Linked DNA regions of Homo sapiens: all the other regions are linked to region 4. Evidence: fine-mapped expression QTL. A gene starts in region 4. Each other region holds a variant in brackets. All regions are shown on one strand. Distances are from middle to middle. Region 1 has its middle 29 kb from the start of TCF20. Region 2 has its middle 39 kb from the start of TCF20. Region 3 overlaps TCF20 (transcription factor 20). Region 4 holds the start of TCF20 (transcription factor 20).

Evidence for each region. PIP is the estimated chance that this variant, and not a neighbour inherited with it, causes the effect. A credible set is the group of variants that fine-mapping cannot tell apart.
Region 1: its variant is the best candidate, but not a certain one, in a credible set for the expression of TCF20 in whole blood (TOPMed, PIP 0.61).
Region 2: its variant is the best candidate, but not a certain one, in a credible set for the expression of TCF20 in whole blood (TOPMed, PIP 0.89).
Region 3: its variant is the best candidate, but not a certain one, in a credible set for the expression of TCF20 in whole blood (TOPMed, PIP 0.66).

What each region holds. Positions count from the first base shown.
Region 1 is chr22:42,296,761-42,301,903 of GRCh38, reverse strand. It overlaps a transcript of TCF20 not described here. Among named protein-coding and RNA genes, the nearest start is that of TCF20, 29 kb to the right of the region's middle. RefSeq lists enhancers at 517-566, 577-686, 88-766, 767-1,445, 1,357-1,586 and 2 more. The variant C/T (reference allele first, on the strand shown) is at 2,052.
Region 2 is chr22:42,306,905-42,312,047 of GRCh38, reverse strand. It overlaps a transcript of TCF20 not described here. Among named protein-coding and RNA genes, the nearest start is that of TCF20, 39 kb to the right of the region's middle. RefSeq lists an enhancer at 920-1,626. The variant C/T (reference allele first, on the strand shown) is at 3,220.
Region 3 is chr22:42,215,409-42,220,551 of GRCh38, reverse strand. All of the region lies in intron 1 of TCF20 (transcription factor 20), which reads left to right. Among named protein-coding and RNA genes, the nearest start is that of TCF20, 53 kb to the left of the region's middle. RefSeq lists enhancers at 2,211-2,799, 5,070-5,143. The variant A/G (reference allele first, on the strand shown) is at 2,196.
Region 4 is chr22:42,268,449-42,273,591 of GRCh38, reverse strand. It overlaps TCF20 (transcription factor 20), which reads left to right and starts at 2,939. Exons shown (of 6, transcript NM_001378418.1): 1 at 2,939-3,253. It also overlaps the pseudogene OGFRP1. RefSeq lists silencers at 2,846-3,005, 3,146-3,295, 3,356-3,415, 3,556-3,795 and an enhancer at 4,126-4,185.

The DNA of each region.
Region 1 (5,143 bases), 28 kb before region 4:
GTCTTGCTCACACCAGCCCCCGTGGCCGTCCAGCCAAGCGGCTGTGCACTGGAGTGCTCCTCCTCGGAGAACTGAAATCTACCAGGGGAATGGCTGCCCATCTGCTCGGGTTTTGCCCGCTGGCAGTGAGAAAGGGAGTCCCCTGTTCCCCACGACAGACTTCAGGGAGCCAAGGGACGCAGCCAGGTCTCCCCAGCCTGCAAACATTGCTTCCCACCTTCCCTCCCTTGCTGCTCCCAGACCCCTCCCAAAGGTTTCCATTGCCCTGGAGCTACGCCAGGGAGCTCTGTCACCTTTGGCATGGCTCTTGCAGACACCTCCGCCTGTCGAATCACTTTGACTTAGGAAGCCCTGCTTTCTCCACCTCTGGGCCTGTGTGCATGCCACCTCCTTGGCTGGGAACAGTGTCCCCTCCTGTCCTCACCTTGCAGGTGGATTCCTCTTTGGAGGGACCAGGCCACGTGCCTTACCCAGTCCAGCCCCCACCATAGCCCCCTCACCCTGTGGTGGTGGTTGTGTGGTCACGTCTGTCTCCCCAAGGTGCACGCCTTGTCTGTCTGGCTCTCCTCTGTCTCCCTGGGGCGTGGCACAGAGTAAGTGCTCAGCAAACACTTGTTGAACCTATGAATGACTCCATCCTCGCCTTGTCCTGACAGCCCCATAGTGAAGATCTGAGCCGACCTCTCTCCTGCTTACACACCTCCAACGGCTCCCTAGTGCCCGCAAGATAAACTTCCGCATTTCTGAACCCCCACATCCACCTCCTCCCAGCCTTGCCTCTGGCTTCCAGCAGCCATTTACACCTCCACCCTGGTAAGTGCAGATGCCATGCTCTGCCCTAGGACCTTCCTTTGGGGAGACTCCCCTACCGCCACCCTACAGAGGTAGCTGCTTCCTCCTTGGAGGCCACACCTCTCTATCCTAAACACCCTCCCCTGTCCTGGCCTCTGAAGGTGGGGTTAAGGCTGACTCAGGGCCTTGGGGAGCAACAGAAGAATGAATGGTTGAATGCATGGTGCATTCTGCAGGTGGGGCTCGGGGGAGGGGAAGCTGCCCAGGTCTTGGCAGGGGGAGGAGGGAATGTCAGGAGTGGATAGGGAGGATGGGCTGAGCAGAGGCAAAGGCAGAGAGGCAGGCCTGGGTTAGTCATCAGGGTGATGAGTGGGGCTGAGTGTGTTGGCCCTGGGCTGGACGAGGGGTTTTCTGAGACCCTCCCCTGCCACTAACCTCCCTATACTTCCCTTTCCCAGCAGCCACAGCCCTGCCCCTTGGGCTGCTGACCGCAGGAGGCTTCAGGCATGGGAGTCCTGAGACCCCAAGTCTTAGCCCGCACCCCTTGAGCACTCACTGTGTGTGTCCCTGAACAAGTGCCTTTCCCTTCCTGGGCCTCAGTGCCCCCTGGGAAACAAAAGCGTTGCTGCCCACCATCAGAAGTGGGAGGTGACCGAGGTTCTGGGCCCCAGTCAGGACATGCTCTATTTGGCCCATGTGGCGCTTTTTTTCTTTTTTTTTTTAGTTTGAGCCAAAATTAAAACAGGGAAGTTTTCACATACAAATCTAGATTTCTGGCTTCTGTTGATATCTGGGCTGGCCCAGCCACGAGCTCTCACCGGCAGGAGTAGCTGGGTGGTCTTCACTCTTGGCCACCTGCCCAGCCTCCTAGCAGAGGCCCCAAAGCCCTGCCGCTCTCCTTGGGGGAACAGGTTTCAAAACCTGCCTCCCCTTACCCTGCCTTGAGATAAAACCGCATTCCCCTAACCCCCTGATATTCCAGACAATCTGCCTCGTTTTAAAATTCCTTCAGCAGCCCCAGGCCCAGCGGCTTCTACCAGCGAAGGAACGAAGGAACGAAAGGAACCAGGCTGCACGTGACTGCTTTGCGGCTGGGGAAGGCTTTGATGTTGCGGGTGATTTCAGCGCGCCCCTCCCCCTCCCCCTCCCCGCCCTTCCTTCCCCTCCTCTCCTTTCTTCCTCTGCTCCCTTTCCCCCTCCTCCTCCACCCGCTCCAAGCTTCCCTTCTACCCCTTTCTGTCTTTTCCCTCCTCCCTCCT[C/T]CCCTCCGCTTCCTTCTCCCCCTTCTCTCTTCCCCTCCCCCATCCCCACCACTTCCTCCTCCTCTGCTATTCTCTCTTACCGACCCCACTCCAGGTACCTGCTAATTGCACTTCCCTCCTGCTATTAATTACCTGACCTAGAGAGACCCCAGCCAGGTCACTCCTAGGAGGTCTTGAAGTGTTGGGGTGCGGGCAGGGGGGCCTGCGTTCGGGGAGAGGTACAGAGGTTGGAGAGCTGCTAGCTGGGACAGAAAGGCAAGAGGGACTGGTGACCAGTGGGACATGTGATTCCCCTCCACCCCCATTCCAGTTCCTCGGGGTTCCTGGGTGACCCACCACTGCCAGCATGTTCTGTTCATGAGGCCTTGAGGCCCCTTTGTCCTGGGGGAAATTGAGGCCCCAGGGCATTGGAGGTTGGCTAGGAGTGGGGAGGGGAGATGGGAGAGAGAGTCCATGGGGAGGGAGAGCAAGGTAAGGACTGTGTGAGAGGCAGATGGAGAGAGTGCCAGAGCAGGGGGCTGGATGTGGGGAGAGGGGCTGGGAAGGACCCTCAGTTCCTGCACCCCCAGCCAGACATGGCCTCACCTCCTTGCCGCCGTCCTCCCTGTGATTGTCCTCTGGGCTCACTGGTTGCTCTTGCTGTCTGCCTACCGCCCCCTTGCCCCCATCCTCCCGTGCCTTCTAAAGGCCAGAGAAGCCTGCAGGGCCAAGTCCAGATTTTTGGGGGTACCCCTCCAGGTCTCCGTTCCCCTCCACAGCAGGGGTCTGGGCAGGCGGTGGGTGTGGGAACCCTTGGAGCCCACCCATCACTGCCATGGTTATTCTCTGTTTCAGTTGGTCCACAGCTTCTAAGGCTGAGGACACACCAGTGGGTGCCTCCTCTGTGCTGGCCGTGGTGCCCGGCCCCTCCCTGCCCTGGGCCCTCTCGTCCTCCCCCGACTTGAGGCAGGGATGGCTCCTGGAGGCCGGGGCATTGGGCACGCTGGTTCTGGACTGTCCTGGGGAAGGCCTGGTGGGGAGGGGACTGCCTGCTGCTCTGGCCTCCAGGCTCTGGCCCATCCCTGCTGTGGTTTCTTTGGTCAAATTTGTCATCTAGGTGGGTGTCCCCACAAAAGGCAAGTGCAGAGATAGATGAAATTAGGGCAAACTTGCGACCATGCCAGCTGGTAGGCCTACTATGTGCCCAGCTATCCACAGGGGATGTGAGAGTGTTGCCTGTCCCACTGCCCCCTCCCCCAGCACCATCCGTGCAAAGATGAAGAGCCCAGGCTCAGGGAAGTGCCGAGACTTGACAGCAGGGCTGGGACCCAGGCCTTCTGCTTCGGGGTTCTGGGCAGGATGGTCTTCAGTGATAGCCAAGGAGGCTTCGGCCCTGGAGTCACCACCCCGGCATGTGCCTTGTTTTCCTCCTTGAAACCATAGTGACACTACTCCTGTCTCCCTAGAATAACTTCTCAGCAGCAGCTGCTGTCGCCTTCCACACCCAATGGGTGCCCCAACAACAGTCGGCCCTTTGGGTCAATCGCCCATGTGCCCACCTTCACCTACCCTCTCTCCAGGAGCACCTCCGCTGATGTCAAACCCTGCCTGTCCTCACTCATCCCCTGCTCCATCTCAGTTCTTGGATGAGTCGCTGGAAGCTGAGCCTTGGCTCTGGCTGAGGGCTCAGCCCTCCTCCGGGCTAGGGAATCTGGTGATAGGAGCACCAGGGCCCTGGGATTTGTGCCCTGATCAGCTGTGTGACTTTGGGCAAGTCACTGGCCCTCTCAGGACATGTGAGAAATGGAGACAGTGGTGATGCCTTCTCTCCCATGGGTTTGCTTTGAGTCTATTGAGAAGACAGATGCTGAAAAGCCCCACCACTTTGTACAGATGTGAGCAGCTGGGCTGAGCGGTCACCTTTGCACCCCCAGGCCCAGCCCTGAAACCAGCACATGTTCATCCTTGCCTGCTCTGCATGGGTGCCAGAGAGGAGCCCTGCTGTGAACCCTCCATGTGTTCCTTCCACCCTGGGTCTCATCTCCTCACCATCAGCCAGGAATGCTGGGCCCTGCCTGACAGGGGCCCCAGCTGGTGGGGGGATGCGACCCGAGGCCTTCTGTTGTGGTTTGTGGGGCAAGAGGGGAGTCCACACACATTTGTCTGAATTGTGTGGCTCAAGATTCTCTCTGGCCAGTATTTCCTAAGTCTGCCTGGTCTGGGTTGGGAGAAGAGGTTATGAAGGGGAAGCTCCTGGGGGCTGAGCTCGAGGCTCAGGGATCATGGGCTTTCATGGCTGACCCTGTGAACTGCCCCTCCCCAGTGTCTGGCCCCTCCAGCCCAGCCATGGGGCTCACCCAGCTGTGCCCTTGGAGGGTGCTCAGGAGGCAGTGGGGGATGGGAGAAGGTTGGGAGGGGCTCTGATGAGTTCTTGTTGCTGGTAAAAAGAAGGCACAACCAGTGTCCTTAGATTTACCGTCTAATGCAAATGAGGACCCACTCCTCATTCTTGCCGCTCCATGAATATGACCAACCCTTAAGCCAGCTAGGGAGTCTGACCTCTGCTCAGGCCTGGCAGGGGACAGGAAGTAGCTCCTCACCTGTTTTTCTTTTTTCAGCCCCCTGGTCAGTTCTACAGCGTAGCCCTCTCTGATCATGCCCATTTTCCAGATGGGCAGCCTCCTTGCCCAAGGTCGCCCAGCTGGGCCATCCATTGTGGGTATGGGCACTGAGGCCTGCCTGAACCAGTAGTGCATAGGGGTTGGGACACAGGTTCTGGGGCCCAAGTTTAAACTGACTTCTCCAGTTTGCTGTGTGGTTCTGGGTGGGTTACTGCACCTCTCTGAACTCAGTTGCCACATCTGTAGAGTGGGTTTAACTATAGCACCTTCCTTTGGAGAGATGTCAGTGCCGGAGTGCATGGAGCACCTGGCATGGAGTGAGTGCTTGCTGAGTGTCAGCTGTAGTTGCTGCTGTTTTTACTGTTATTTGACTTGAAAATCTCCCCCTGCTCCTCGTGCTGCTTTCTCATTCGCGAAAAGCTGAGCTGAATAAATGGCGACGGGGCCTCCTGGGTCCCCCTGCAGCGTGATTACATCCCTGAGCCCTGCTTG
Region 2 (5,143 bases), 38 kb before region 4:
CATCCTCCATGTCTTCCTCCTTCTCTGTTGCCTTTTGGCAGAAGTTTTACCGTTTGTGATTCATTCCTTTGGCATAACTGTTGCCCTAAGTTCTTCTAAAATGCAGAACCCTAGAGTCTCACTACCCCTTCTAGGAAGGAGACCCTTTCAAGTCCCAGCTTCTGGGTAACCTATGTGCCTAGGAGAACAGGGCTGTCTTGACTATGCAGGGCTCTGGTGCAGGGGTCTGTGGAAGAGACGGGGAAATCAGAGTTGGGAGGACACGCGGCAGCTCCTGTGTGCCTGCAGGGTGCCCGGGATTGCACTTTTCTTGCTCTTTTCAGCCCTACAGCCCTGGGCTTGGGATGTTTTCATCCCCGTTTTGCAGGGGAGGGGACTGAGGCACCGCTAGCAGGTTTCCCAGCTGGGAGGGCCAGGCCTGGGGTCTGCATGATTCCCGTCCATACCCTTCAACTGCACCTTGCTCCTGTCCACAACATGGGTGTATGATGGTGGTGTGGCCCCTGCAGGGCACCAAGGTCAGCCCCTCTGGTTTGCAGCTGCTGAGAGAGGGCCCAATCCTCACAGCCTTTTGTCCTTTAGGAAAGGTGATCACTTCTAGAGGCTGATTTGATCCCCACACCACCCTGAGGCAAAAATGTCCTCGTTTCTCTTATGAGGAAACTGAGGCACAGGGGGTACCTACTCTATGACACACCATTCAGTGCCCCTCCTGCCCTTCCCCCCAGTCCCCTTGGGAAAGGCCTTGGGCCTGGGCCTGGTGCCAGGAGATGAAGCACTTAGGCAGCCCCCTTCTGCCTCCCTGACTGCAGGTCCCAGTCGCCAGCCCCGCAGGGACCCCTGCCCAGAGCCTGCCGCAGGTGGGAGGGCTGGCGTGCAGGTCCTTGAGGGGAGGCAGGCTGTGTGTGAGCCGCAGTTTGGGAGCCTGGCCACCCCCCTGTCCCCCGATTCCTGCACTCGTGTGCACCTTCTGAGGGGAGCAATCCCTGGATGCCACCGGGCCAGCCTTGGGCCAGCCATACGGTTCCTAAGTGTTCCTCCCTCCAGGCCGTATTTTCTTGGGTATTGATGAGCCAGTGTCATCCAAGATGCAGCCAGAAGCTGAGCTAAACTCAAGACAGATTGAGCCTCCGCCTCATCAATCTGCCTGCCGCTGCTCTGCTGGGGAGAAAAGAGGGCGGGCAGGCGGGCGGCCCAGGCTCTGCGGGGCCCTCCTGGGCTCTCAGAGTGGCCTCCTTAAACCACAGATCCACCTGTTGGGGCTGGCTTGTCACTCTCTGTCCAGGAATTTGCAACTTTCCAGACTCAGGCTCCTGGCCTGGCCACCCATTGCCTGGGGGCTAAAATCCACCCTGCTCATGTCCACCACAGGCCCTGTCTCCTTGCACTCCATTGCCACGCCAGTCCTCTCCACTGTATTCCAGCCATGCGGGCTGCCACTTCCACGAGCCATACTCCTTTCCTCCTCAGGGCTCTGCCTGGAAAGTTCTCTGCATGCCTTCCTCGTCTAGCCTGGCTGAAACACTGCTTCCTCTGAGCCCACGCGCCCCCCTGGCTGGATTCCTGTTATTGTCGACAGTCTCTTAGCACCACTTACTCCCCCCCGCACAACCCCCCAGAGAGCTGGCATCAATGGGTTATTTGTGAGAGTCTCTCACTGTCTGTCTCCCCCAGTGGGACATGGGCTCCGTAGCCCCAGGGACTGTCCATCTTGTTTCCACTAGATCCCCAGGACCTGGCACATAGTAGGCCCTTAGCAAGTGTTAGATGAATGTGCCAACATATGATTGTCATTGCCCTAATTAAACACTTTCCATTTCCTACTGCCCCTGGGATGAAATGTAAACTCCTCAGTGTGGCAGGCAGTTAAGGCCTGCAAGGTCCAACAGAAACAATTCCCTCTGCCTAGAGTTTGCTCCTCATTTTTTCCTCCTCATCTGCCCCTTTATAAACTCCTACACATCCTTCAAAGTCCACCTTTTCTGGGAAAACTTCATGGCCGCTCCGGGCAGTTGGCTGTTCTGCCCTCTGATTCAGCAGTGCCTGGGCACCAGGCCCTGTGCAGGGCACTGGAGAGACAGGGCTGGAAGGGGTAAGATTAGGGCCAGTGTGGAGTTAGCCTTGGACACAACCTCAGAGCATCCTCATGGCGATGATGACAGAAGCAGCTTCCCAGGCAGTTTGTGTTTTTCTTACTTCATCCTCACCACAACACTGTGAGGTGCTGGTGTCACCCCTATTCTGCAGACGAGGACAGCAAGGCTCAGAGAGGTGACGACTGGCAGCTGACATGAAAAGCCAGACAGGGCAGTCCAGAGGCACTTTGAGAGGAAAGAAGTCTGAGCTGAGACTGGAAGGAAGAATACAGGTTTTCTAGGCAGTGGGGAGTTGCAGGGGCGTTGCTGGCATTGGGGACAGTGTGGGCAGAGGTGTGGAGGGCCACGGGCACGGTTGGGGTGTGCAGCAGCCGTAGATGGGTAGGGAACTCCTGAATGTGGGGAGGGGGAAGCTCAGGAGCCTGGGGCAGCGGGGGCGAGGTGGGCAGAAGGGGAGCAGTAAAGGAGGAGGCTGGGGAGGTGGGTCAGGCCAGAGCGCGGAGGCCCAAGCTGGGGAGGGAGGCCCAGGGCACTGGGGCCTGGCGGGGTCTGGGTGACAGGTTGAGGATCCTGGCATGTGGCAGTTCACAGGCTCTGTAGTCCCCCGTCCTGCTTGTCTAGCCTACCCTGTTCCCTTAGCAGTGTCCCCTCCCAGCTGACAGGGCAGGCGGGGGCTCCTGGCATTTGTCCCCTGGTGGAGACCTTGGGGAGCACTTGCTGTCTGTAAATCTCTGGGGAAGAACATGAAAACAAGCCCAGTGACTGTCCCGCAGGGGTTGCCGGCTCCGCTCTTATCTGTCTCCTCATTTGCAGAGTGGGCATGGTCCACCGCCTCCTGCCCCTTCCAGGCCAGCCTCTCTGTGGCCGGCCGGCCATGCTTCTCTCAGCCTCCCCCGCCAGGGTGTCCTGTGAGGCCTCTGCACCAGGCGGCAGGCACCGGCGTGTTCCCTGGGTGTTCAGTGCCCCTCTGCTCTCAGTAAGCTCTACCCTCAGGGCCTGTGTGCAATCCCAGCCCGTTTCACCCACGCCTGGGTCTAGCAAGGCAGGTGCCACCTACCATTTCTGTAGAGATGGAAACTGAGGCTCAGAGATATTAAGTAATAGCATGTGATCACCTGGCCAG[C/T]GACAGGGAGCCAGGATTGAGACCTAGGGCCAGCTGCCTCTGTGGTCCTGCTCCTGGCCTAGCTGGGAGGATCTCCCTCCCCTGTCCTCACTTCATCTCTGCTCACCAAAATCCAGCCATCCCTCAAGGACTCACTTGAAGGGACCAGACTCACTTCTGGCCATGGGGGAGGCTCAGTGTTCCTTCTTTCATTCCCAGATACCTTGTGCCTGCCATGGCCCTGGGTACACTTCTAAGACCCTGGGGACGTTGTGCAGAGGTAAAGCCCAGACTCTGGGGTTGGATTCGTGGCTTCACCTAGGGTGCTTTGGGGCCTTCATTACCTCCTTGAGACTCTGTTCATTTGTAAAATGGGGGTGACATTAGTGCCTGCCCCCAAGGATAGGGAGGACTAAGTGAGTCTGTAAAGTGCTGAGAACACTACCTGGCACCTAGTAGCCCTCTGTCTGAGTCACATGTTACTGTCTCCACCCCTAGTGTTTGTGGGCCCCCTCCAGGAAGCGCCTCCAAACCTCTAGGCTGGTGAACATTTTCCTCCTCGAGCTCTCTCTCTCACTTGCTTCACGTCCAAGGGGTTGAGGGTCAGGTGGGTCCCCCGCCTCACTATAGGCACCTTGGGGGCCAGGGCTTCCGTCACCCCCATAGCCCCCTCTCCCCACCCCAGCTACCAGACCAGGGCTCCACGCATTATAGACACTTAATACATGTTTATGGAATTGAATTAACGATAAAACGAGATAATGGCCTGGAAGGAGCCTGTGCTGTTAGGAGGGAATGCATAGCGTAAAAACCAGGCATATATTTTTAAGCAGATTAATCTGGTCTTAACTCATTCTAATAGCCTGCGCCCCTATTGGCCAAGGCCATTATAATAACATATGGCCAGGGCTGTGGAGCTGGGAGATAGCAGTGCCTCGAAGTTCGTCTTCCGAAGGATACCACAGGAGGCCGGTGTCCAGCTGGCCGTCCAAGCTGGAGCTCAGAGAGTCTGAGGGACCTGACCGGAGTCACACCGCTGGGTAGGGGAGAGTGTGAAGAGACCGAGGCTCAGAGAGCCATGGGGCTTACCTGCAGACATGTAGCCCAAGGGGTGTGAGTGGCACAGGAGGCCTCGTCTTCCGCTGCGATGGTTGCATTATCTTGTGTTCCATGCCTGTGCTGGGTCAGAGCTTCTAGAGTCCCATCCCAGGGGACGCTTCACTTAGCTCCTCACCTCTGTGAGTCACCATCATCACAGTTGGGATGTCAAGTTTAGTGCTTCAGAATGTACATGCCCTTGGCCGGGAGAGAGATGAAGCTGGTATCAGTCATCCACACCTTAGTCTGAATTTACATCCCGTGAGGGCAGAGATCAGAGGGAGCTAGGGATCAGCGGGCTATTGGAAAGGAAGGAATAGTCTAGCTCCAGTCAGAGTAGGCGGGGCAGGGGGAATCAGAGCAGTGGCTCCAAAGTCACCCTTCCCAGCTGTCCGCCACTCTGGGCCTAAGTGCAGATGGAAGGCAGGGAATGAAGGAACTTGGCTTGCTTGGTGACCAGACAAGGTCCCACCCTCACATTCCGGGGCGAGGATGCTTTTAGAGAATGGCCCTGACCTGACCACTGTGCACTGCTGGTCAAATGCTGGTTGTAGCTACTGCAGCCGGCGTCCTCTGCTGCTGCCTCCCTTGGTGCATCTCAGGGGCAACCCCATGCTGTCGTCAGAGCCCACCATTGCCACCAGATGGCTCGGGTTGGTGCCCGGCCCTGGCTGCCCCTCCTCTCAGTCTTTTTTTTTTTTTTTTTTTTTTTTAAGACAGAGTCTTGCTCTGTCACCCAGGGTGGAGTGCAGTGGCATGATCTCGGGTCACTGCAACCTCCGCTCCCCAGGGTCAAGCGATTCTCGTGCCTCAGCATCCCGAGTAGCTGGGATTACAGGAGCGTGCC
Region 3 (5,143 bases), 53 kb after region 4:
ATTTAAAGGCAAAGAAGGAGAATAAGCAGAAAATCATGACAGAGGATGAAAAAATTAGCTGGGGCCAGGCACAATGGCTGAATTCTAGCACTTTGGGAGGTTGAAACAGCAGGATGGCTTGAGCCCAGGAGTTTGAGACCAGCCTGGACAGCACAGTGAGACTCTGTCTCTATTTTTAAGAAATTATAAAAATTAGCCATAGTCCCAATTATTTTTTAAAAATTAGCCAGGGGTCCCATGCCTGTGGTCCCAGCTACTTGGGAGGCTGAGGCAGGAGGATTGCCTGAGCTGGGAGTTGAGGCCGCAGTGAGCCTGTGGTCATGCCACTGCACTCCAGCCTGGGCAACAGAGTGAGACTCTCTTTCCAAAAAAGAGAATGGATTGGGAAGTGGGATGTTGTTGGACATATGGAGGAAGAAGGACAGAGAAAGCCAATGTTGGTTTTCTATAAGAGGGCAAGGTCATCAGCCCTCTAATAGGATGGGGAGAACAAGTCTGCAGCTGGTTATGAGTGAGTTTGTGAGGTCGGCACATGGACTCTGGAATGTTTAGGCACAGAGTTCTGGACCTCACTAATACACCTCCACAGCCCTTCTGAAACTGTTCAGAAAGTTAGGAATATAGGAGAAAAACAGGAAAGGGAGAGTCATTATGGATGGGAAGTACATCGGTAGGCCTCTTTTTTATTTATTTATTGAGACGGAATCTCGCTTTGTTGCCCAGGCTGGAGGGCAGTGGCGCGATCTCTGCTCACTGCAACCTCTGCCTCCGAGGCTCAGGCGATCCTCCTGCCTCAGCCCCCCGAGGTGCTGGGACTACAGGCACGCATCACCATGCCTGGCTAATTTTTGTATTTTTTATAAAGATAGGGTTTCGCCATGTTGCCCAGGCTGGTCTCGAACTCCTGAGCCCAAGTGATCTGCCCGCCTTGACCTCCCAAAGTTCAGGGATTACAGGGGTGAGCCACTGTGCCCAGCCTCTTTTTTAGAGTGTGTATGCAAGTTCCTTAGGTGACTTATTCCTTTGAGGTATCAGATTTTCCTTACTATTTGTATTCATTTAAACAAAGGAATTCAGGCACTTATTATTACTAATCACAGTGCTTTAAAACTGACTACACTGATGCTTTTTTTAAGATGATGGGATAAAATTGGAATTATCTCTATTAGCTTTTTTTTTTTTTTTTTTTTTTTTTTGAGACAGGGTTACTGTCACCCAGGGTGGAGCACATTGGCACATTCATAGCTCGTTGCAGCCTCGAACTCCTGAGTTCAAGCAATCGTCCTACCTCAGCCTCTTGAGCAGCTGGGACTGTAGGCACACCTCATGACACTGTGCATTTAAAATTTTTTTTAACCCAGGCTGGTCTTGAACTCCTGACCTCAAGCGATCCTCACACCTCAGCCTCCCAAAACACTGGGATTACAGGTGTGAGCCACCACACCCAGCCTATTACTTATTTTATAGCTCCAGGTTTACATTTTCTGTCGTTGGTATATGCTAGTTGGTTTTCTTAATTGGTTTACTTGGCATTCCTAAAAAAGATAAACCTGGGCAACCACCTTCTCCTACTCAGGTGCTTCATGTATACTAAGAATATTTAGCATGACTGGAACCCTGCAGGAGGTATTTGGCCTTGGATTTTTTTTTTTTCTTTTTCATAAAGTAGAACCATAACAATAGGGAAAGGGGTATCATACAGGACAGGGAATCTGCAGGGGAAGGCTGAGAACAGACCTAAGAAGGAGTCCTTCCTGTATCTGTTTTCCCTGTCTGGAGATAGGGCAGCCTCAGGCCTGATACCCTGATGTTTAAAGTGGCCTTTAGCTCTTGGTGGCTCCTATTTAGGAAGAATATGGAGCAAGTGGCAACATTGTTTATACACTCAGATCTTCAGAAGCCTGATTTTATTTCCAGAAGGATTAATTAAACAACATGTAACATAGCTTTTTATAGAGAATATCTCTTGAGAAGGCTTTTCATTAGTTTAAACTGCTAGCTTTAATGTTTTTGTTCAATTTAGCCCCCATTCAGCCTTGTTTTATCTAGAGAAGGCCACTGGCACTGAGGAGTAGAGCAGGAGCACATCACAAGGGGAAAAAATTAATACTCATGTAGACAGAATTGCTCTTGATAGTTCTAAGAATGATGGGGAGCGGGTGAAGAGCCAGCTGGAACAGTATGGAGGTCCTTAT[A/G]AGAGGGTGGCAGTGAAGGGACAGATTTATTGTGGGTGGCTACCCACTTTCAAGGCCAAACTGACAGGACAACTGGTATTTTTTACTGACCATGTGGAAGACCCTCTGGGCAATGTAATGTTAAAAACATGTCCTGCCCCCAGCCCTGCTGCCTAGGAGCTTTGTGAACTCTGCTTCTGTTTCCTCATCTGTAAAAGGAGCGTGCTAGTGTTGTGAGGATTAAATGAGTTAGTGTATGTGAAGTGCTGGAACAGTGTCAAGCAGCATCATCACCATTTGAATAGCTATTACCTACTGCCCTGCAGATTCACTGGAACAAAGCAACAGAGGCATTTTGAATAGGATGAGAAGTTTCCTTTAGATTCTGACATTATTTGCACATGAATGTTTAGCGATTGTTTTGGGTCACATGACTATATAATCAAGCTTAAGGAAGTAGACCCTTGTCTAGCTGTTTTAGACTTACGATATTTCAAGATATGGGTCAAGCTTTTAGAATTTGGGGTTACTGGCCATCTTCTGCTCTAATCAATATTTACTTTCTGAAGTCTTTCCTCAGTTCTCATGTGGACTCAAGCTGGGTCTTTCCCTTAGAACCGGACTCATGGGATTTTACAGGCAAGGTCTTCAGCATCCTCCAGCTCTGCTTTTAGGTTGATCATATTCTATTTTCACTTTCTATAATTCTCTCATGTCACTCCCACAGCACCATCTCTGAATATGTGAGTTCTAGCCTAGTTCTCTAAGGCCTAGTTCTTACACCATTTAATCATTCACACAGACTCCGGTGTGATGACGTGAGGATTACAGCAAGGAACAGTCAGTTTCTGCCCTTTAAGGAGTTTACATTTTAGTCAGAGGAGAGACAGACAGTAAACAAGTAGCATATATGTGTCTGTTTGGAGTAAGTATGGGGCCAGGCAGGGGATAAAACAGGGGAGGGAGTTACAGCCAGGGAAAAGGTGTGGAGCTGGCTGTTTTTACTAGAATGACCAGGGAATGAGTGACACTTGCCCAAAGACTGGAAGGAGAGCAAGCTATCTGGCTCTGGGAGAAGAACGTGCAGGTGAGAACAGAGTTCCTATGTAGATATGTGGTAGGCCTGTTCCAGGAACAAGGCAACTGTGGGGCTAGAGCAGAGAGTGATAGGGGAGGAGCTCAGAGAGGTCAAGGGGGTGGGAGCAGGGGCCTTTGAGACCAGTTTCCCAAAGAATGAGGTGGGAGCCACTCCAGGGATTGGAGAGGATAAATCTGACTTACCTTTAAAAAGGTTGTTGACTTTCCTGCAGGCAACTCCATTTTCAGCTCCCCTTCAGGGGAACTAGGAAACTAGCTTCATAAACCATTGTAACTAAACTAAACTGTCTATTACACCTCACTTTACCCTATATGTATTTTGGAACTTGTTTTTTTAAGTAATTGGTTCTAAAGTCACTTGGAGCAATTTGGCCTTGTCCCTTTCATCTCTGACTCTGAGGAGACAGGCCCAGGTGAAAGGGGAAAAAATCAGCTTGATTGATTAAGAGGGATTATAATAGGTAATACAAAGTGGTGGCTCAGTCAGATAACTTTGAAAGAGTCTGGGTCCTAGGCTTGATGAATTCCTATTTTCCTCTCTGTTTTTTGCTGTCCTCCAAGATGATTGCTTCTAATTCTTTCATAGTAATGGCCAGTAATAACTGTGAATTTAAAAAACTGGCAAATACAAATACCACATGGCGGGTAAAGGTGCTGGAACTTCTTGGAAACCTCCCAAAATAATCTGGAAGAATAGTCACTGCTATTCACTGGCTTAAGTCTAGCCCTTTGTACCTGGGAATTGAAGGAGAGTGGTGGAGAGAGGGGTGCTGTAGACACAGTCATATGCCAAGAAGAGGTTGACTCCAAAGTTTGTGTGGAACCCATATGGGCTGAGTGTCCTGGAGTCACCAGTCATCACAGGTAGTTGGCAATTATAGTAAAGCTGCAAAAATTTGCACTTGGACATAAGGAATTGGCTGCAGTTCTCTGGCCAGGTCTGTTTCTCAGTGTTGGGGAGTGGCGATCAGCAGCCAGTGTTAAAACCCGCAGTTCAGTGATCACCCTAATACATGAAAGCAGAGAAATGAAAGTAGTGGCTTATGCCTGTAGTCCCAAAACTTTGAGAGGCCGAGGCAGGAGGATCATTTGAAGCCAGGTGTTTGATGCTGCAGTGAACTACGACTGTGCCCCTGCACACTCCAGCCTGGGCAAGAGTGAGACCTTGTCTCAAAAAAAAAAAAAAAAAAAAAAAAAAAAGGATTTGGTTTTTCTTACCCCACACCCCCTCCCCCGCATAACTGGGAGGCTTATTGAAAAATTGCTGTTTTTCATTGACAGTAATAACACAGCCCCATATTTTAATCTGGTTGAGTTTGGGGGCTCATTTGTCTAATAAGGCATTATTAGATATATGAGACATACATGTTTTTGCTGTATTGGGTTTGTATGCACTCAGAGTGCTGCTTTTCATTCTACTACAGATTCTTGCCTCACTCTTTAGGCCATTTCTCTGCATATGTGCATTTTCAGAAGTGGATAGGATAAAATATAAAAGATGAAATTCAAGGTCAGGCGTGGTGGCTCATGCCTGTAATTCCAGCACTTTGGGAGGCCGAGGTGGGCGGATCACGAGGTCAGGAGTTCGAGACCAGCCTGGCCAGCACAGTGAAACCCTGTCTCTACTAAAAATACAAAAAATTAGCCGAGCCTGGTGGCCATGCGCCTGTAGTCCCAGCTACTCGGGAGGCTGAGGCAAGAGAATTGCTTGAACCCTGCAGGCAGAAGTTGCATTGAGCTGAGATCGTGCAATTGCACTCCAGCCTGGGTGACAGAGTGAGACTCTTGTCTCAAAAAACCAAAAAAAAAAAATAGAAATTCAAACCAGTCAGCTTCATCTGGGCCTCTGATTCATCTTTATTCCCTCCATC
Region 4 (5,143 bases):
GATCCATGCATTTGAGACAGTGAGAGAACAACAGAAAACACTAATGTGATTTCAGAGGAAGGGGCGCTCAGTTATTGAGTGCCTGCCACTGTGCAATCTTGGGCAGCAACTTAACCTGTTTGAGCCTCAGTCTACTCATGTCCTTTTGTGTCCATGTCATAGAACATGCAGCTAGTGTTAACAGTGCCTGGTACTGCACTGAATTTTTTTTTTTTTTTTTTTTTTTTTTTTGAGACGGAGTTTTGCTCTTGTCGCCCAGGCTGGAGTGCAACAGCACAATCTCAGCTAACTGCAACCTTTGCCTCCAGGGTTCAGGCGATTCTCCTGCCTCAGCCTCCCAAGTAGCTGGGATTACAGGCGCCCGCCACCACGCCCAGCTAATTTTTGTATTTTTAGTAGAGACAGGGTTTCACCATGTTGGTCAGGGTGGTCTTGAACTCCTGACCTCAGGTGATACACCCCCCTTGGCCTCCCAAGTGCTGGGATTACAGGCGTAAGCCACTGTGCCTGGCCTATGCAGCTCTCTTGAGAGTCCCACAACACCTTATGAGTGAGGTAATTAAAAAAAAATTTTTTTCTTTTAAATAAATAGAGATGAGGGGGAGTCTCACTGTGTTGCGCAGGTTGGTCTTGAACTCCTGGCCTCAAGCAATCCTCACACCTCGGCTTCCCAAAGTGCTGGGATTACAGGTGTGAGCCACCACACCCGGCCCAGTGAGATAATATTATCTCCATTTTATAGCTGAGGAAACCAAAGGGGGAAGTGACTTGTCCAAGGCCACGCAGTCCAAGAGTAACCCACATCTTCCTGTTGGCTATGATGCCCATACACGTTCTTTTTCCAGATGGAACCAAAAGAGAAAGTGGCAGGCTTTCAGGGATAAAGAGGCCCAGCTGGCCTGGTCCAAGGACTGGGGAAGTTTCCAGGTGGAGGGCATTGGGGCAATGTTCTGGCAGGGTCTGAAAGGGCGGGGAGGGGGCTGCATGGTTATAAGAGGCAGGAGCTGACAGGCGCCTGGACTCCAGTTATCTGTCTGCATTCTTTATTCTTTCCCTTTTGAATGAGGCTCTGCGACAGATTGTCAGCATCCCCCGGGCCCTGCATCTGAGACGCAAGTGAGGTTATGAAGAAGGGAAAGAATGGAAGAATGATGGGGCAGGGGACTCTAAGGAAAAAGGATTCATCTTTCTTCATGAATTCTCTCAAGAAATTAAGGGTGCCCCCAACACCAGTCTTCAGGAGGCCCTGCATTCTCCTATTTTTGTCCAGAAAACATTGATTTGTGCTGAGTGCCTCTTCCAGCTTTCCCTTTACAGCCCTGATCCCAGGAGAAGCCAGGTACTGGTCTTTTAAAAGTCTTGAGGCCTGAGAATTTGAAAATGAAACTCAGAAGAACAATGGGAATAATCAGAGGGCAGGGCCCCGTGGCTTGTTCAGCTCTGCCCCGGAAGAGCCTGGCATGCAGGAGGTGTTGGGGAATCAAGTCCCCAGGAATAGTCCTGACCTGCTTTGGAGCCAGCCCCCACTTTGTGAGATTGGACAGAAGCCAGGAGAAATCACTGCCTTCCCCAAGTACATGCTCCTGCCAAGGGGCCCAGGACCACCTGGGGCTCTGCCTGGGACCCTGAGACCCTCCTTGGGTAGCCTGAGAAAAGGCAATGGCTAGGTGGGGTGAAAGGTCAAAAAGTAAAAGCAGGCCCCGGGAAGCTGTGTACCTCAAATATATGGAAATCTGGGTTCCAGACCACACCTGGTTCCTGACAATCCCCACCTGCTGCCGGAAGCACTTTTCCAATCCCAACTTTTAAGTTGGGTTGCTTCAGGAGAGGAAGCCACATACTCCCCTAACATCTAGGACAGATGGGAGCCTAATTTAGAATCGGCAATTTTAGCCAACATTAGGGACATCTAATCCAAACTCTCCTCACCCACAGGAAACTGAGGCCCAAAGTGGGAGGAGAATTTGGCCAGGTCAAAGGTCAGGGGCAGGATCACAAATTCTCAACGCATCCTACTCTTGCTGGCCTTGTCACTTTTGATGGCCGTGGGGGCACCAACATCTACATATTAGTTGCTCTACAATTGCGATTTTCTTTATAAAGAAGTCAAGCCCTTCCTTTGCTTTAGAAACATCAGGTTTGCAAAGGAAGGCTGGGAACAAGCTGAGGCCTTGGCACCGCAAATCCTCCGCCTTATCGGCAAATTAATTCGGGACCCTGGGCGCAGTCAGCCTGGCATTGCAGCTTCTTAATGCCGCAGCAGAAGGCAGCTGGAGCGTCCGTTTTACAGGTGAGGTAGGTGGGCCTCCCTCCTCGCGTTTTCCGCGGTGGAAACTGAGGCTCTGAGAGGACCCAAGTCGTTCCTCCACGGACACCTGGAACCCATGGGCGGGGGCTGCCAGGGACCCAGGCGGGACCAGCTAGGTCTTGGGCTGCCCCCGGCCCAGAGGGCTCTTGGCGGGCAGGAGCCGCCCCCACGCCCGACCCCACTAAACAGGTCACCGAGAGGAGACCGGGTCCTCGCCCGCGGACCTCCCGGGCCGCAAGAGGCGCGATTCTGGAGTTGGAGGCTCCAGGGAACTCCAGAAATCCCAGAGAGATTCCGGGCCACCAACTCCCCCAGAAAGTTGGCTCGCGTCCACCCCCAAGACGGCCCTGAGGCGCAGGCCAAGATGGCACTGGGCGGGTGGCGCGCGGCGCCCAGCGGCCGCAGAGGAGAACCCCGTGCGACCCTGCCGCGAGGTGGGGGTCTTCGCGATCCCTACCCGGCGCGCGCCAGCCTCGACGCCGCCGCACGCGGGTGGGCACGCGCGCGCCCGGCCCCGCCCCCAGCGCCCCGCCCCCGCCGCGCGCCCCGCCCCGCCGCGCGCCCTCCCGCCCGCCCGCGCGCCGCGGCCCGGAGCCTCCCCATTGGCCGCGCGCCGTCACCTGACGCTCTGTTATTTCCTGTGTGTTGGGAGAATGGAGAGAAAAAACCCCGAGCCCAGCCGCTTTCGGCCCCTGCGAGGCGGCCGCGGCCTCCGCCAGGGGAGCCCGCCCTGAGGCGCGCCTGACCGGGGAGCGAGCGCGCGGGCCGGAGCGAGCCTCGAGGGGCCGCGGCCCCGGCCCGCCCCGCCGCCGGCCCGGGCGCCCGAGCTGGAGGCGGCGGAGCCACCCCCACCCCCACCCCGCGCAGCGCCGCCCGCCGTCGCCACCGCTCCCTCCCCGCCCGCCCCCGGCGGAGGCCGAGGGACTGGGCGGGGGGCTCCTGCAGGTAACCGCCTCCCGGGCCTGAGGGGCAGGGAGAGGGTTGGGCCTGAAGGACTGGGGCCGGGCCGGGGTGTCCGGCCTCGGGGGCTGGGAGCAGAGGTCCCGGCCGGACCCAACCTGGGAGTGCGGAGCCTCCTGGACTCCGAGTCAGGGCTTGGGGTGCTGAGGGGAGTGTTGCTGCCCGGCCCGACCCAAGAGTGCGGGCAGGGGCCCGGGCCAGGCCTGGCATCAGAGGGCTAAGGTGTCTTGGGCCGGCCCGGGGTTCCGGCGGGGCTTGGGTGCCGGTGCTGGCCCGAGGGTGCGGAGGGAAGGTCTACCTGCTGGTCGCGCGAGGCCTTGGGTGCAAAGGCGGCGGGTGTGAGCGGGCGGCGTCCGGGAGTCAGCGCCGCCTGCTTCGGGGCCCCTGGCAGCCCCGGGGGCACCGGCCGCGCTCGCCTCTTGGCTACGGGCTGGAGGCGAGGCCAGCGGGGCTGGGCCGGGATGTGGGCGGGAGGGCGCCGCGCTGGGGCGCCCAGGAGAGCAGGGGCCCGTTTACTGCCATGTGAACACCTGAAGCCATGTGGACGCGGCTGCTTCTCGCCTGTTGGGGGCGGAGGGCAGGTACCGGCGGGTTGGGCGCAAGGTCCCGGCGCAGGACACACTTCCTGTGTGGGGCGGCCTCTCCTCCCGCGCCGCGGGGAACAGGGCGGGGTGTGCAAGCCGGGGTCTCTGGGCGAGGGAGCGCTCGTTTGGGGACCTGAGGCTTTCGTCCCTTTTTCGGGGGAAAGTGGTGGTTTGAAGGAGCGTGGCCAATCGGGCCGATCCCTCTCAGGCTACGGCGGGAGGTGCACTGTCCTCTGGACGCCGGAATGGGAGTGGAATTTAGTGAGTTGGGGGGCGGTGCCGAGGAGCGGCCGTCTTCCTCTGCTTGTGGGTGGGATTATTGTCTGTTTTTGTGGTTGCGGATACCAATACGGTCTGCTGGTCTGTATTCAATCCTTTAGTTTGACCTTAGGGGTCAGGTCAAAATTAGGATTTCCCCCTTTTCCTTTTTGCTTTTTTTTCCTCGAAGATTAGATGTCTCTGGTAACTGCTGTAAAATGGATGGAATTTTCGAGCTATTATCTAACAGGCTGATCTTTGAATGATAATTGGACCCTTATGTTAACAGCCTCAGTGAAGAGTGAAGAGTTTTATACAGCATCTTCCGTGGGGTGGCAGTTAGGTGGATGGGGAAGCTACACTGAATTCCGACCTGGGAGACCAGGAATCTGCTTACAGCTTTGACGCCAAATAAACTGCAGCCCAGGGCAAGTTACTTTCCCTGGTAATTTTCTCATCTGTTAAGTGAGGACTCCCGGGTCAGACGGTACAGGGGTTTGTGGTTTTGCTTTTTTATCTCTCATTTTGTGCTCTGTTTTAGCCATAGGCAACTTTTCTGAGAAATGCAGACTGTACCTTAGCTGGCTTTTAAAAGCCTGTCTTTAAGCTTCCAGCCTCTGCCTTCAACAGAGCATAAAAGTTGGTCAGGGTACGCTCTTTTTTGAAATCCCACTTGCTGTTCTGTGCTTCAGATCAGAAAGTGTATTATTCTGACCTAGGTGGAATGCACCTTAACATATTTTTTGTCTTTGTGAAAGAAGTTATCAGAAAATGTTTCAGAGAATATTTGTCTACTTGGAAAATGTGTGGATAACATGTGATTGGGTCTGTGTATGTTGGCTCAGAGGAGTTCCAAGATCTTTCTACGCAGGGGATTTTGGAGGATCCAGATTTTATTAAAGTTCTTCAAAGGACATTTGACATTTGGCTAACTGTTGAAATTTCCAGCCAGTTTCAGCATTCTCAGAGTAGGGGGATGAAGTAGAATGCCATAACATCTCCTGTGAAATGGTATGCTAGTGGAATTAACTGT